2 separate regions of the Homo sapiens genome follow, and region 2 is linked to region 1. The links come from fine-mapping of genetic effects on gene expression. Tissue or cell type: whole blood. Region 1 holds a variant in brackets; the other region holds the start of a gene. All regions are shown on one strand. Distances are from middle to middle.

What was found. PIP is the estimated chance that this variant, and not a neighbour inherited with it, causes the effect.
Region 2: it holds the start of SPTLC2, and the variant in region 1 is fine-mapped to the expression of SPTLC2 in whole blood (INTERVAL, PIP above 0.99).

What each region holds. Positions count from the first base shown.
Region 1 is chr14:77,560,175-77,568,279 of GRCh38, reverse strand. SPTLC2 (serine palmitoyltransferase long chain base subunit 2) reads left to right here. Exons shown (of 12, transcript NM_004863.4): 6 at 5,791-5,884. Among named protein-coding and RNA genes, the nearest start is that of SPTLC2, 52 kb to the left of the region's middle. The variant TGTGAATATTTTTA/A (reference allele first, on the strand shown) is at 3,444.
Region 2 is chr14:77,612,413-77,620,517 of GRCh38, reverse strand. SPTLC2 (serine palmitoyltransferase long chain base subunit 2) reads left to right here and starts at 3,881. Exons shown (of 12, transcript NM_004863.4): 1 at 3,881-4,070. The coding sequence starts at 3,939. RefSeq lists silencers at 3,455-3,514, 3,845-3,894, 4,035-4,234 and enhancers at 3,554-4,086, 4,415-4,624.

The DNA of each region.
Region 1 (8,105 bases):
AACACAAAGATATCTGGAAAACCTTTGAATATTTGAAAATTAAACAATATATTTCTAAATAACCCATGGGCCAAAGAAGAAAAAACAGGGGAAAATAAACATATTTTGAACTAAATGGAAATGTAACCTATTATAGTTTGTTGGATGAAGCTAAAGCAATGCTCAGATGGAAATGTATAGCATTAAACGTTTATACAGGTTGAGCATTCCTAATCCCAAAATCTGAAATCTAAAATGTTTCAAACTCGTAAATATTTTGAGTGTCATCATGACAGCTCAAAGAAAATGCTTAGGGGTGCTAAACCAGTAAATATAATGCAAATAATCCAAAATCCATAAAAATCTGAACTCTGAAACACATCTGGTCCCAAGCATTTTGAATAAGGAATATTCAACCTGTATTAGAAAAAAAGTAAAGCAGCCAGACTCCATCTTAAAAAAAAAAAGTAAAGCTTGTAGCTTAAAAAATTAGAAAAAGAAAAACAAATTAAACCCAAACTAAGCAGAAGGAAGAATATAATGATGATAAATGCAAAAATTAATGAATTAGAAAATAGACAATAGGAAAATTAGTGAAACCAAAGCTGATTCTTTGAGAAAATGAATATAGTTGATAAATCTGTGGCCAGAATGGTCAGGATAAGAAGAGATAAGGTGCATATTACCAGTAACAGGAATGAGAGAGGGGGACATCACTACACGTCCTATGGACATTAAAGGATAATAAGGGAGTATTAAGAACAACTTCATGCCAAAATATTCAACAACTTAGATAAAATACACAAAATTCCTTGTAAGACATAAATGTATGGTTCTTTGACTTCACGTTATAATACGTTGCTGTCCTGCATTTTGAAGTACAAGCCTGAGATTCTTATTTGTTAGAATTTTTAACACTAGAGGATTAGAAAATCTCATCTTGCTCTTCTCTCTGTATGCTTACAAGCTCTATCAGAGGATTATCTAGAATTAGACGTTTTCTACACAGACCTGGAAGATACAACCATAAGGATTTATATTCCAGGGCCGGGCGCAGTGGCTCACGCCTGTAATCCCAGCACTTTGGGAGGCTGAGACGGGTGGAGATCGAGACCATCCTGGCTAACAGGATGAAACCTTGTCTCTACTAAAAATACAACAAATTAGCCGGGCGTGGTGGCGGGTGCCTGTAGTCCCAGCTACTCTGGAGGCTGAGGCAGGAGAATGGCGTGAACCCGGGAGGCGGAGCTGGCAGTGAGCCGAGATCGGGCCACTGCACTCCAGCCTGGGGGACAGAGCGAGACTCCGTCTCAAAAAAAAAAGATTTATATTCCAAATCAAACTATAATTGAAATATTATTAAATATTGTTTAATCTGTTAAAGACAGTAACTTATCCAGTTTTAATGATCCTTTGAATCTGATACTGAATTTCCATGTGAGGTGGTTAATTGCTCAGTTTGATGGCAGGGTGGGGCAGTATATTGATTAAGAGCATAGGTTCTGGAAGCAGACACTTGTCTTATTTAATAATTATTTTGTGGCCGGGCGCGGTGGCTCACGCCTGTAATCCCAGGACTTTGGGAGGCCGAGGCGGGTGGAACACGAGGTCAGGAGATCGAGACCATCCTGGCTAACACGGTGAAACCCCGTCTCTACTAAAAATATAAAAATTAGGCGTAGTGGCAGGCGCCTGTGGTCCCAGCTACTCGGGAGGCTGAGGCAGGAGAATGGCGTGAACCCGGGAGGCGGAGCTTGCAGTGAGCCGAGATTGCGCCGATGCACTCCAGCCTGGGCAATAATTAGTATTGCTATTATTATTTTGTTACTGTGCTTGTGACCTTGAGCAAGATTCTAAACTCCTGAACAAGAGTGTCCTCATATGTAAAGTGGGAGTGATAATAGTGTCTGCTACATAGAATTATTGTGAGGATTAATAGTAATAATGCTTTTAAATCTTTTAACATGATACCTGAAACATTAAGCGCTTAGATGTTAACTGCTAGTATGAATACCTTTTATTTTTGAACCAAAGATTTAATAAAGCTTAAGAATAAGTTCTAAGGGAAAAAGACAGATTGATACATTGAAATGCTGAATAAGGCTGTCTAAAAAAGGCTGTCTAAAAAGAGTTCCTTTTTGCCAGAAAAAAAGAACATAATGCTTTTGCAGGTTTGCCAGAAAAATATTTAGCTGGAAAGAGAAGAAAATAAAATTTTGTGCGGAGGGGAAGGGAAGGGAGGGTTCTTTTTAAGATAGAGTTGAATGCCAAGAGTGGTAAGTAAAGAATTTGACTTGCTGAAGAGAAATCTGACTTCTCTTTATTTTCTCCCCCAGTTTCGCTTTTTCAATTTTAACACTTTTTTGAAACTTTAATTTAGACTTACAAAAAGAGTTACAAAAGAGTACAGAGAGTTCCTGTATACCATTCATTCAGCTTCCCTTTATGTTAACATCTTGCATAACAGTGGAACTGTTTCTTACAGCTAAGAAATTAACTGTGACACAATACTATAACTAAAGTACAGGACGTATTTGGTTTTCACCAGTTTTTCCGCTTCAGGATCCAGGTGAGGATCCACATTGTCTTTAGCTGTTGTAGCTCCTCAGTCTCCTCCAATCTGGGATAGTTCCTGTTTTTCTTTGTCTTTCATGACCTTAATACTTCTGAAGGGTACTGGTCCCTTATTTTGTAGAATGTCTCCAATTTGGGTCTGTCTGTTGTGTTGTTATGGTTTGATTGAGTCCGTGCGTTATTGAGAAAGCTACCACAGAAGTGATACCATTCTCAGTGAATCATGCGAGAGACTATGTGGTTTTGATACATATTACTGATGATGTAAATCTTAATCGCTTGTCTCAGGTGTCAGCGGGGATTTTCTACTACCAACTTACTGCTTTTCTCTTTGTAATCACCATATATTGTGGCAGAGATACTTTGGGACTGTATATAGCATTTTGGATTAAACTTTCACCCACTAACTTTAGTATGCATCTGTGATCTTGCCTGTGGCAGTTATTACCTTGGTGTTCTTTTTTTTTTTTTTTTTTTTTTTTTTGAGATGGAGTTTTGCTCTTGTTGCCCTGGCTGGAGTGCAGTGGCGCCATCTCAGCTCATTGCAACCTCTGCTTCCTGGGTTCAAGCAATTCTCCTGCCTCAGCCTCCTGAGTAGCTGGGATTACAGGCACCCACCACCATGCCCGGCTAATTTTTTGTATTTCTTAGTAGAGATGGGGTTTCACCACGTTGGCCAGGCTGGTCTCAAACTCCTGACCTCAGGTGATCCAGCCACCTCAGCCTCCCAAAGTGCTGGGATTACAGGCGTGAGCCACCGCACCCGGCTTACCTTGGTGTTCTAATGGTGATTTTTCTATTTTTCTCATTCTTTCTATACTTACTAATTAGAATTTTTGTGTAAGGAAGAGTTCTTGCTTCTCCCTTATTTATTTCTGTCGTTGTGGGTT[TGTGAATATTTTTA/A]TTATTTGGCTTATAATTCAACACAATTGCTTCTTTTTTGTTGCTCGAGTTTTAGTTTTGGCCATTGGGAGCTGCTTCAGGTGGGTACCTGTGTCCTTTGAATATATAATAACTTTTTTTTTTTAAAGCATTCTTATACTTTCTGGCATGATAAAATGCTCCAGGATCATCTTATATTTTCCCTATCCCAGTTTTGGAATTAACCAGTTCTCCAAGAAGTGCTGGTTCTTTTTTTTGGAGAATGATATTTAGAAACCAAGGTCTGGGAACTAGGTGTGTTTATTGCTGAAGGAGTATCACTGCTTCTCACCTCTCAGTGACTAGAGCTAGAAAATGTATGTATATATGCGAACTCATGCATACACACACATCTGTGTGTGTGTGTGTGTGTGTGTGTGTGTGTGTGTGTGTGTGTGTGTGTGTATGCATGCATAAAGATTTGAAAGCCAGGAGTCTATTGATACTGCCGGCTCTAGTCTTCTCCTTTTCCTTATTCTCCTTCTTCTCCTTCTCCTCCTTCTCCTCCTCTTCCTCCTTTTCCTCCTCTTCCTCCTCTTCCTCCTCCTCCTCCTTTTTTTTTTTTTTTTCCCCCCAGACAGAGTCTCCCTCTGTTGCCCAGGCTGGAGTGCAGCAGCACAATTTCGGCTCACTGCCTCACTGCCTCAGCCTTTTGTGTAGCAGAGATTTGAGGCGCCTGCCACCACGCCCAGCTAATTTTTTTGTGTTTTCTTTTTAGTAGAGATGGGGTTTTGCCATGTTGGCCAGGCTGGTCTCGAACTCCTGACCTCAAGTGATCCACCCACCTTGGCCTCCCAAATTGCCAGGATTACAGGCATGAGCCACCATGCCTGGCCACTTCATTTTTAATCTGTACATTTTTAACCAGGTAGCTTTTTTATCTTAATAAATACTATGTGCATAATAAAAATTTCAAACACAACTACTGTTACAAGTTTCTTAAGTATTCCTTTAAGAATATTCTGTAATAAATAAGCATGTATATATATAGTTGACCCTTGAACAACATGGTTTGAACCATGCAGGTCCACTTACACGTGGATTTTTTTCAACCAAATATGGAGCAGAAATACAGTTTTCAGCCAGGCACAGTGTCTCACACCTGTAATCTTGGCACTTCGGGACGCTGAGGCGGGTGGATCACCTGAGGTCAGGGGTTCAAGACCAGCCTGGCCAACATGGTGAAACCCCATCTCTACTAAAAATACAAATATTAGCTGGGCCTGGTGGTGGGCTCCTGTAATCCCAGCTAGCTGGGACGCTGAGGCAGGAGAATCGCTTGAATCTGGGAGGCAGAGGTTGCAAGTGAACCAAGATCGCACCACTGCACTCCAGCAACAAGAGCAAGACTCCATCTCACACACACACATACACACAATATAGTATTCATGGAACACAAAACCCAAGTATATGGAGGGCCTGCAGGTCCCACAGGGCCAACTGCAGGACATGAGCATGGATGGATTTGGATAAATGTGAGGGTGAGGCAGTTCTGGAACCAAGTCCTCCTGTAGACTGAGGGATGACTGTGTGTCTTTGTATCTTCTCTCTTCTTTTTATTCTCGTGGGAGCATGCTATATACTTTCTGCACCCTTTTCATCTAATTGGATATTATGAGGCTATTTTTGACAGAGAAAAACCTTTTTCTGAGTTGAGATCTGACAGGTTGAAGGGCCCCCTGAGAGATGGAAGAGTAAGAACTGCAGTGAAAAAAAAAACCAAACCGAGATCTTCAACCTTTTCTTAGTTGCCTTAGCAGAAACTGATGTTTGTGTGTTAAAGCAAAGCTTGTTTGGGGATTTTTAAGACAAAACTGAAGCCTACAGTCCATGCTATGTGGGGAAAAAGTTAATAAGTAGGATCTTCCCTGGACTCTGGATATGAGTAGTAGTGAGAGAATGCACCATTTCCACAGACATGACCCCATCAGCTGCCATTTCCCACAGATAAACAGAACATGATACTAAAACTACATGGAATTCTCTCACGTAAAGAAACCAAAACGTTTTAGAGACGGATGTGTCATGTTTTAGATACAAATAAAGACCTGTTGCCATATATCTGAGTATTTACATCAGTCATGGGACTGAAGATATTAAATTAAAAGGCTAGAATTTTGCATCTACTTTTAAGGTGTCTTTACAAAAAACAAATGATCGTGTACACCTTTTTCCTCTTCTTAAAATTGATCACTGTGCTGTTGTGCACAATTTCCTTAATAAGATACAGCTATTAGTGTTTGTGGCATTTTGTGATTTGTGTAACTAACCCTTTCCCCTCCAGCTTCTTACCTTTCTGTTCCTGTGATGTTGCAGGGTTGCCTGATTCTGAGTGATGAACTGAATCATGCATCACTGGTTCTGGGAGCCAGACTGTCAGGAGCAACCATTAGAATCTTCAAACACAACAGTGAGTTTGCTGAAGAATTCACTGCTGGCCTTGGTTTTGCTATTCTTTCGATCCATGGTGGGAGTTAACATTAGTTATATTAGCACTTGAAAGTATAAATGAAGACAAAGTAGCAACATTTAAAATGTTCTTCCGGTCCAGTCTTTTAAAATTAGAGGTTGATGGAAGCCTCTTGTACAAATATAATACTATCCTTTTATTTGACCATGAAGTTTTCCATCCCATTTCCTTGTTTACAGATCCGTTACTCAAATACATTTACTCGATGACTATAGTGTATCTTGCCATAAGACTAACAGTATTTAAGTGAATAAATCAAGATCTCTGACTGGTTAACGAAGAGACTTAATAGATAAGCCAGTCCTTACAATATAGTGGACAGGTGCTGAAGTACAGCTATGAATAGATGCTGTGGGAGCACAGAGGAGGGTGGCCCTGAGCCAGACCTTTCCTCCCTCAGTGGAAATATCTTTGTGTATTATTAAAATGATTATTTAGAATAAAAATGCGTAACTTTCATAGTTAAAACACACACATAGGCAGAAAAGGTGACCAAACTGTATGTTAATAGCATCTTTTCCCAAAATGTGTACAGGCACAGACAAAAGTTTGGAAGAATGTATACCAAAATGTTAGGTGTGTACCCGTGGATGGAAGGATCATAGATGATAACATCATTTTTGTTTTTGTTTTTGTTTTTGTCTTGTCTAAAATGTTTTACAGTGAGAAATGAGATCTTATTAAATATCACTATGTAACCTGTTATTTTCTTTTTTTTTTTTTTGAGGCTAGAGTCTCGCTCTGTCACCCAGGCTGGAGTGCAGTGGCTCAATCTTGGCTCACTGCAACCTCTGCCTCCCGAGTTCAAGCGATTCTCCTGCCTCAGCCTCCCGAGTAGCTGGGATTACAGGAGCGCGCCACCACACCTGACTAATTTTTAGTATTTTTAGTAGGGACGGAGTTTCACTGTGTTGGCCAGACTGGTCTTGAACTCCCGACTTCAGTTGATCCTCCCGCCTTGGCCTCCCAAAGTGCTGGGATTACAGGTGTGAGCCATCATGCCTGGCCTCTTTTTACAATACACGGTGATTGTTGTTTGTCATTACATGTAACTCTATCTCATTCTTAAATACCAGTGTGGCAGTTAGTGCCTGGGTGTGCCCTCATTTAATTGCCCCCTCAATTGGACATCGGGGCTGTTTCTAAATTTTTCTACTGGGAACAGCACTACAGTTACAGTTTTGTACCATCATCTGGTTAGTGCCTTAGGATAAATTTCTAGCAGTCTCAGAATGCATGGTTAAAAGAGTATACATTTTTAATACTTTTCCAAATTGCCTCTAAGCATTATATGAACTTTTTTTTTTTCACTTTTATTTTAGGTTCAGGGGTACATGTACAGGTTTGTTATATAGGTAAATTGCATGTCTCGGGGGTTTGTGTACAGATTATTTCGCCACCCAGGTAATCAGCATAGTACCTGATAGGTAGGTAGTTTTTCGAACCTTACCCTCCTCAACCTCCCCTGCCTCACTCTCAAGTAGACCCCAGTGTCTGTTGTTCCCTTAGTCGTGTCTGTATGTACTCAGTGTTTAGCTCCCACTTACAAGTGAGAATATGTGGTATTTGGTTTTCTGTTCCTGTATTAGTTTGCTTAGGGTAATGGCTTCTAGCTGCATCCATGTTGCTGCAAAGGACATGATCTCATTCTTTCTTATGGCTACATAGTATTCCATGGTGTATATGTACATATATATATATATATTTTTATTTTTATTTTTGAGACAGAGTCTTGCTCTGTCTCCCAGGCTGGCATGCATTGGCATGAACTCAGCTCACTGCAACCTCTACCTCCCCAGCTCAACCGATCCTCCCATCTCAGCCACCCTAGTAGCTGGGACTACAGATGTGTTCCACCACGCCCGGCCAAGTTTTTTGTTTTTTGTTTTTTGTGTTTTCTTTTTGTATTTTTTGTAAAGATGGGGTTTCACCATGTTGCCCAGGCTGGTCTTGAACTCCTGGGCTCAAGCAATCCACCCACCTTGGCCTCCCAGTACTGGGATTATAGGCATAAGCCACCACGCCTGGCCCACATTTTTTTAATCCAGTCTACTGTTGATGGACATTTAGATTGATCCTATGTCTTTGCTGTTGTGAATAGTGCTACAATGAACATACACATGCTTGCATCTTGTATGAATTTTTCCTCAACAACATGAGA
Region 2 (8,105 bases), 52 kb before region 1:
CGATCTCGGCTCACTGCAACCTCCACCTCGCGGGTTCAAGCGATTCTCCTGCCTCAGCCTCCCGCCCGCCACCACGCTGGATAATATTTTTGTATTTTTAGTAGAGATGGGGGTTTCACCATGTTCGCCAGTCTGGTCTCGAGCTCCTGACCTCAGGTGATCCGACCCCCTCGGCCTCCCAAAGTGCTGGGATTATAGGTGTGAGCCACTGCACCCGCCAGCCTCCTTCTTTAACATCCATTCTAAGCTATTGCTATTTGTCCTTTTCACTCCCGGGTTCTATCTCCTTGTAGTGAACACTGTTAGGGTTGTTCCTCCCTTCTCTGCTATGATTCTTCCTTGTCTATAACTGATTCCTCCCCTCCAGCAGTTTGACCTTGTGCTCTGGCCATTGCGATTGGTCAGATTTACCCATCCTCACCATAAGCTAGGCCAATCAGATTTCTTTTTCCTGAGAGTGTAGAAGTTTGACCTCATGAATATGAAAGTTGTAGGTTGTTGAGAGCTAAGCACCAGAAGTGGTTTGGTTAGGAGGAAGGAAGGTCTATAATTTTCTGCTGCTGAGGTTTAGGATTTTCCTGAGTGCCAACACTTCCCTGTCTTCAGGAGAGTTCCAATAAATTTACCTTTCTTGAATAAGTTTTTTAAAATTGGCTTATGTTATCTGCAACCAAAGAACCTCAATTAACACAGTCTCCATGTGATAGAAGGTTCCTTGGAGACAAGGCCAAAATTTTTTTTTTTTTTTTTTTTTGAGACAGAGTCTCTCTCTGTCACCCAGGCTAAAGTGCAGTGGCACAATCTCGGCTCACTGTAACCTCTGCCTCCCAAGTTCAAGCAAGTCTTGTGCCTCAGCCTCCAAGTAGCTGAGATTACAGGCATGTGCCACTACGCCCGGCTAATTTTTGTATTTTCTGGAGAGACGGGGTTTCACCATGTTGGTCAGGCTGGTCTCGAACTCCTGGCCTCACGTGATCCATCTACCTCGGCCTCCCAAAGTGCTGAGATTACAAGTGTGAGCCACCATGTCCAGCCAAGGCCAAATTTTAATTCATTTATCCATTTATGCATTCATCAAACATTTATTGAGCATTTGCTATGTGACAGACACGTGGTAGGTACTGGGAACCCAAAGATAAATTAGACAATCCCCTCAACTCACCAAGCTTGTTGCCTAATTGTAAGTATAAATGTATTCAATCAATCATTCATTCACTTAATAAGTACTTCATTTATCCAATGAATAATTACCAACACTCATTTAATATTATGTAACAGGTCTTGGCACTAAATGCTTTTGTTAATTCTCCAACTCTATGAGGTATATCCCATTTTACAGAAGAAGTACCTGAGTCATAGAGAGGTTAGGCAGCTTTGCCTAAATCATAAGGATTCTAGGTGCTGAAACCGGTCTTCAATTATGGTATATCTGACTGCAGAGCTCTTGCTTCTAAGCATTGTGTAACCTCCCTCTCAAAGAATCTCAAAGCAGTGTGATACATGCTTACACAGGTGTGTATAAAGCTCACAGAGGAGAAAGCAACTAATTTTGTGGGGAGGTTGGGGTTCAAAACAGGCTTCACAGTTGAAGTGGTTTGAGCAATCTTGAAGGAAGAGAAGGGTTGTCTTCCTGGTGCCTAGCACAGAACTTTGCATATGAACACTGTAAAATGATGATTAAGCGGCTTATGTTTCTGGAAGGAGTTGTTTTCCTGTTTACATGGAGTCTGGGGTGTTTCCTACTGCCTACTGCAGCATCATTTTTGTGATTTAGCAATGGCATGTGAAGTAATCAGATCATCTGTATATCACTGATGCTCACAGAAGCCTGTAAGGTAAGTAGTACAGGTACACACTTTGTAAGATGAGTGAGGAAACCAGGGCTGAGTTTGCATTACTTGTCCAAGACTATACATAGTGAGTAAGTGGCGGAACAAGACAAGGGGCCAGCCCCCTGAGGAGGGATCGGCTAACAGGACTCCTCAAATCTAGCCAGACTCCTTTACTCCTCTTAGCCTGCAGGTGAGGCTTTGATCTTTCTAGACTCGACACCCGAGTTTCTGAAGGTTTCCTCAGAACACCCTCCCCATCCTTCTCAGTTCCAGCTCTCCAAGTCCCGCTCATCTTCCAAGATCTGTCTCATTGCACATCTTCCTCGCAAGCCTTCTCCAGAGTCATTCAGCTCACTCCCTAAGCTTCAGTTAAATCCCTTAGCCCTGCTTCCATCCAGATTCCTGCCCTGAAAACTTTCTACCTGGTTAGACTCATCACTGCCATTCAGCTTCCCTCATCAGAACTCCTGTTGCCTAATCTCTCCAGCCTTAGGTTGGTCTTTAACTATTGTTTTCTTTCTATGTGTATATCTTGTCTCTCACTGAAATGTAAGCTCCATGAAGCACAGCCACATGTTTCCTTTTTAGCCTTATACATACAGATGTATATTCACTTTGGGATCAATAGTGTTTGTCAACTCAAATAGGATGTGTGGGATGAATGATCCCACCTTCTGTTAGATTATTCAGCTCCTAAGTCATGCAAAACCAATACCTTGTGGACCTCCTTTCTAAAGCTCCTGCAGGGTGGGGAAAGAATGCACGGATTCTCATAGGTGCATTTAGCAATTACTAGTAACCAACACTTAATGAATGCTTACTAATTGCTAGGTCCTGTACAAAATACATTACATACATAAACTTATTCAATCTTCACGACAACTATTATTGTCCCCACTGAACAGATGAAGACACATAGAGGTCACTCAGCTAGTAAGTGGCGCAGCTAGGATTTAAAACCCAGACCGACTCCAGAGTCCATACTCTCAATTATGATACTAAATTCTTTATGGATAACAGAAAGTCTCTAATTGTAATGTAGATCAATTTCCTTGCTTTCTAACCCCATGGGAAGATGGAACTAAAAGGGTGAGAAAATAATATTTATTATACTCCTACTATAAGCCTAGTATTATAAGAGGTGCATAATGGGTTAATGATATAATTCTTGCTGTAAGTCTATGAAGCAGGAAGTATTAACTCCATTTTAAAGAATTTGGCTTCTAAAGTGGTTAAACACAGTGCTCAAGTTTTAGCTTCCAGTTATTGGCAGAGTTGGAATTAGACCAGGTTTTCTAACTTTGAAGGAAAGACTTAATTTAAAGGAGACTGTATAGAAAACCCTGCCAAGGGCAAATGTGAAGGGCACGTGAAAAGGCATCTGAATTATTACTTATAATAATTCAGAAATAGTGAATGTGTGGCGCATATTGAAGAATGATGAGAGATTGTCAAAAAATCTATTCTATAAACACTCACAGAGGAATCAGCTAATTAAATAAGCGAGCTGCCTGTCTTGGGCTAGGACATAAACTCCAAAACTTCCCACGAGGCAAGGGCAAAGAGGGCGCCACCTGTCCTGGAGAACCTGGGAACCCGCTCTAGAGACTTCGGCTCAGCCCCTTTTATTTCCTCACACTCTAATTGGCTACTTTTCCCTGGGCTCCGCCTCCTCCTCGGTCTGGACCATTAAACAGGCAAGCCCTACCCCGGACCTGGATGCGGCCTCCAATCAGGTGCCAGGCCCTGGAGTCCCTCTAGAGAAGCCCCCTCTCCACCGGCGAGGCGCTTTGCTCTCGTCCGTGATTGGCCAGGCAGCAGCATGGGGTCCGCCTCCTTCTCTTCCAGATTGGTCAGCGGTCCTCAGGACCACATCCCTCTCGGCAGGTCCCCGCCGCTTTTTCCCTTCGCTGCGTGGCCTTGGCCGAGACCGGTCCTCTGCGGAGAGGGCCCCGCCCTCTGTGAAGGCCCGCCCGGGAATTGGCGGCGGCGCTGCAGCCATTTCCGGTTTCGGGGAGGTGGGTGGGGTGCGGAGCGGGACTTGGAGCAGCCGCCGCCGCTGCCACCGCCTACAGAGCCTGCCTTGCGCCTGGTGCTGCCAGGAAGATGCGGCCGGAGCCCGGAGGCTGCTGCTGCCGCCGCACGGTGCGGGCGAATGGCTGCGTGGCGAACGGGGAAGTACGGAACGGGTACGTGAGGAGCAGCGCTGCAGCCGCAGCCGCAGCCGCCGCCGGCCAGGTACGAGGGGCCCGCGCGGCGGGGCCGGGGTGGCGGTGTGGACTGGCGGAGGGGCGGCCGGGCGGGGCGAGGTCTCCGGGCCATCCGCTGGGCAATCCGCGGGGCGGGCGCCGTTCGCAGGTGTGGGCGGCAGTGTCCGGCCGCTGGCCCGACCTCCACGAGCCTGGAGGCTCAAGGACGGCTCGGGGGCTCCCCACCTCTCCGCGCCTGGAGGTCTTACTCCCGGAGCTCTGGGTTCTGCTCAGAGCTCCGGGTACTTTTCTCTGCCCCATTCTGCCAGAAGTGTGTGCTGTCCCCAGGGGAAGCGATGAGGGGCCCTTCGGACTCCAGTGGGAGCCGCCCAAGGGCTCCGGAGGGTCCCTTCTCAAACCCCTGAGGTTATTGCTTCCTTTTAAAGTCCTGCAGTCGTCCAAAGAAAACCACCCATGGGGTCCTTAAGAAGCAAAGAAAATTAGGCGGTGGTGTCAGATGGAAACACACCCAGCCTCTCCCAACCACATTCTGGACTACCACGTTCAGTCCCCAACCAGGACATTGGTCCATAGATCTGGCAGGGAATCCAAGCTGGTCCCTCGAAAGCATCATTCTCTTAACTCTGCCGGTGGTGAGACTCTACCCCAGGCTCCAGGTTGGATTAGGTGGCCCCTTCGACCCTTTCCTGAACACGAGTGCTATCACACAAGGGGATTGTTTAGCCTGGTGGTGACTTGCGATGACTCTATACTAATTAACCATGCTGAATCATCAACCAAGTTCAGGCAGTTCTAAAATATTTTGAAAAGTTCTAAATTCAAGACAATGCTTATTATCAACCTTACAGTGGTCTGGACTGACAGATATTCTGTTGAAATGTGTTTTTAAAGATGAGCTGGTTAAAAAGATGCAAGATCGGTGTTCCTGGAAGAGAGTGTTGCGATAATTTTGCAGTTGACTTTAATACGTTTAAGTCTTGTACAGATATTAAGGAACGCTTAGAAAGTACTCTGTTTCCCTTTAGCGGGAGTGTGACTGTTGCAGTTTGATAGGATGGTGATCTTAATTTGGCTTTAACATAACTACTCCCCAGATGAGTAGTTATGATGGATAGGTCTGTTACTGTTTGCTGCGAAGCAGAAAATAAAGCATTTTTCCAGGTCATGTTGAGATATTGAGACTGAGTTGAGGGGAAAAATAAGTAAAGCAGACTTGACCTCCCCTGAAGTTGTAAGGTGTCAAAGCGAAGTAATACACAGATCAAAAGATTTGTTTTCACTTTTAAAGAAATAATTGTGTGAGGGAGGAAGTGATAACAGTCAGCTCATTATAAGCAGTGGAATAGTTTGTCGTTTTCCTAGCAATGTAAACGACTTATAAGACAAAATTGTTGTGGTATAGAATGTAATAGGGAAATTTAACGGGTAGGAGTTAGAAAATACATTTGCAGGTGAATTTCATTGAGGTATGATTTTTTTTTTGTTTTTGTTTTTGTTTTTTTTTTTCAGACAGTTTTGCTCTTGTCACCCAGGCTGGAGTGCAATGGCGCGATCTCGGCTCACTGCAGCCTCCACCCCCTGGGTTCAAGCGATTCTCCTGCCCCAGCCTCCCGAGTAGCTGGGATTACAGGCGCCCGTCATCACGCCCGGCTAAATTTTGTATTTTTATTAGAGATGGGGTTTCACCATGTTGGCCAGGTTGGTCTCGAACTCCTGACCTCAGGTGATTGGCCTGCCTTGGCCTCCAAAAGTGCTGGGATTACAGGCGCACCAGGCCGAGGTATGATTTTTTTTGTTTTTTTGGTTTTTTTTGAGATGGAGTCTCGCTCTGTCGCCCAGGCTGGAGTGCAGTGGCGCGATCTCGGCTCACTGCAAGCTCTACCTCCCAGGTTCACGCCATTCTCCTGCCTCAGCCTCCCAAGTAGCTGGGCCTACAGGCACCCGCCACCACGCCCGGCTAATTTTTTGTATTTTTAGTAGATACGGGGTTTCACTGTGTTAGCCAGGATGGTCTTGATTTCCTGACCTCGTGATCCGCCTGCCTCGGCCTCCCAGAGTGCTGGGATTACGGGTGTGAGCCACTGCACCTGGCCGGTATGATTTTTTAAAATGAAAAAGGAAGTCAAGAGAAAGGTGTTCACACTTCAGCGTTGCTTTGTGTTCAAATGCTTCTTTCAATCCCTATGAGTTATGTTCAGATTTAGTAGGAAATCAAGGACCTTTCTCCCATAATCTCTAACAATTTAGCATTTATAGAATGATATTTCTTCAGAGCTTGCCAACTAATAAGGTGAAGAAATATCAAGGTACTAACATGACATTTTAAAATCTGTATGAATAACATTTGGTTGACTTTTGGGGACATGTTTTGTAAAAGTTTCACTCAAGGCACATTGGTGGCATTTGGAAGAACGGTCTGTTGGAATGCTGTGAGGGCTGCAGTATCCCTTCTAGAAAACTACTTCTCACCAGTATTTTTAATACAGACTTCAGATCTGGAGCTTTCTACACTCTCAGATGGAGGAATATTGTCTGTGAATATTTTTCTTTCTTATACAAAAGAGAGATCTTGGTAACTACATGAGAGCAATACAATATCTTAACATTTTTTAAAAGTTGTTTTCATTTTTAATTAAAGCGATGTGCTTGTGCTCCAACCTCTACCTATCTTTCCCCTCTTTCTGGGGGGGAAATGTTGCCAACTGTGCCATCAAAAATACGCATACAGCTGTGTGTCATGCTTTTACTAAAATATGAATTTAGAGTATAACATTGTTGAGATGTAAATTCTTTTCCTCACATCTCCCACCATGTCTTTTAATGAACAGGAGAGAAGTCAGAAACGTCTAGGATCACTTTACACTCTCAAGAGTATGTTTCTGTGCTTGAAGAGATGAATGAATGTGTATAGTAAAAGAACAACTCTTGGATTTGGGTTTAGAATTTGATGAGCTAGATGCTGTGTTAAGGAGTTATGAAACAATCACACATTGCTGTTTAGTGATGACAGTAGACACACAGTTTTCACAATAGTAACAGTTGAACAATAGAGCAGTAATTTTTCCTCTCTGCTATTCAGATGAGTGGGAGGAGCACAAACCTTTATTTGAGGTAAGGTGTGGCAATTTGCCCGAGGGAAACTTTTACATTAGCATTGGAAAGAACCTTTGGGAGTTTATTTAATTCAGTCCTTTATCTCTTTGTAGGAGTTTATTAAAATCAGTCTTGATAGAAAATTCTGTACTGTTTTTAAAGATCTCCAGGGGATTTGCAGCAAGTTTTTCTCTATAGCAAATTGGATTATTATTCCATGATCTTAATTACCAAATTTCTTCCTGTGGATTTAACATTTGATGAAATAAATGCCATGTTTTGGTTGCACCTGAAATATAGTAGTTTGTTTGTGTGTTTGTTTTTAAAACTTCACGTTAACAGCTCTTTTTAAAAGAGCTTCCATTTCTTTATAGAAGTTTTGAGATTTAGGTTTTCCTTTTACTTTCCTGAGTTAGTTAATAAGTGTGAAAGAAAAAAAGTTATCTACCTTTGAGACAGTTTTGACCCTAACTTTTTTCCCTTTGGGTGTAGTTTTAATGAGATATTAGAAGGATGAGAGCTCTCTGGCTTACAGAATAAAAAATTCTATCTCAAGGAATTGGGGCAAAAGTTGTGTTCTTATGTTAAATAATAAGCAAAGTAGAAAGAACAAAGTGTTAGTCTTGCTTCTTAGGAGGAGGCAAATAAATAACTAATAAAGCTGGTTTACTAAATAGCTACTAGCTTTTGTTTCCACTGAGGGAGAAACAGTAACTGGGGGTTTATATGTGATAGTTAAGGAAAAGGAGACGATAGTTATGAGGCTAGAACAGTAGAAATAGTTAGAATAGTCATATATCTATTTAGATTTAGCAGATCCTGATAAGATACCTCAGATACCTGAAGGCTTTTCAGAAATAATGTAATTTACAACTTGGAGGACAAGATTTTCATTTCAGTTTTCACTCTAAGGGGAAGCATATCTTGATTCTTACATAGCTGCATCTGAAGAATTCCAGAGTTATTTGAG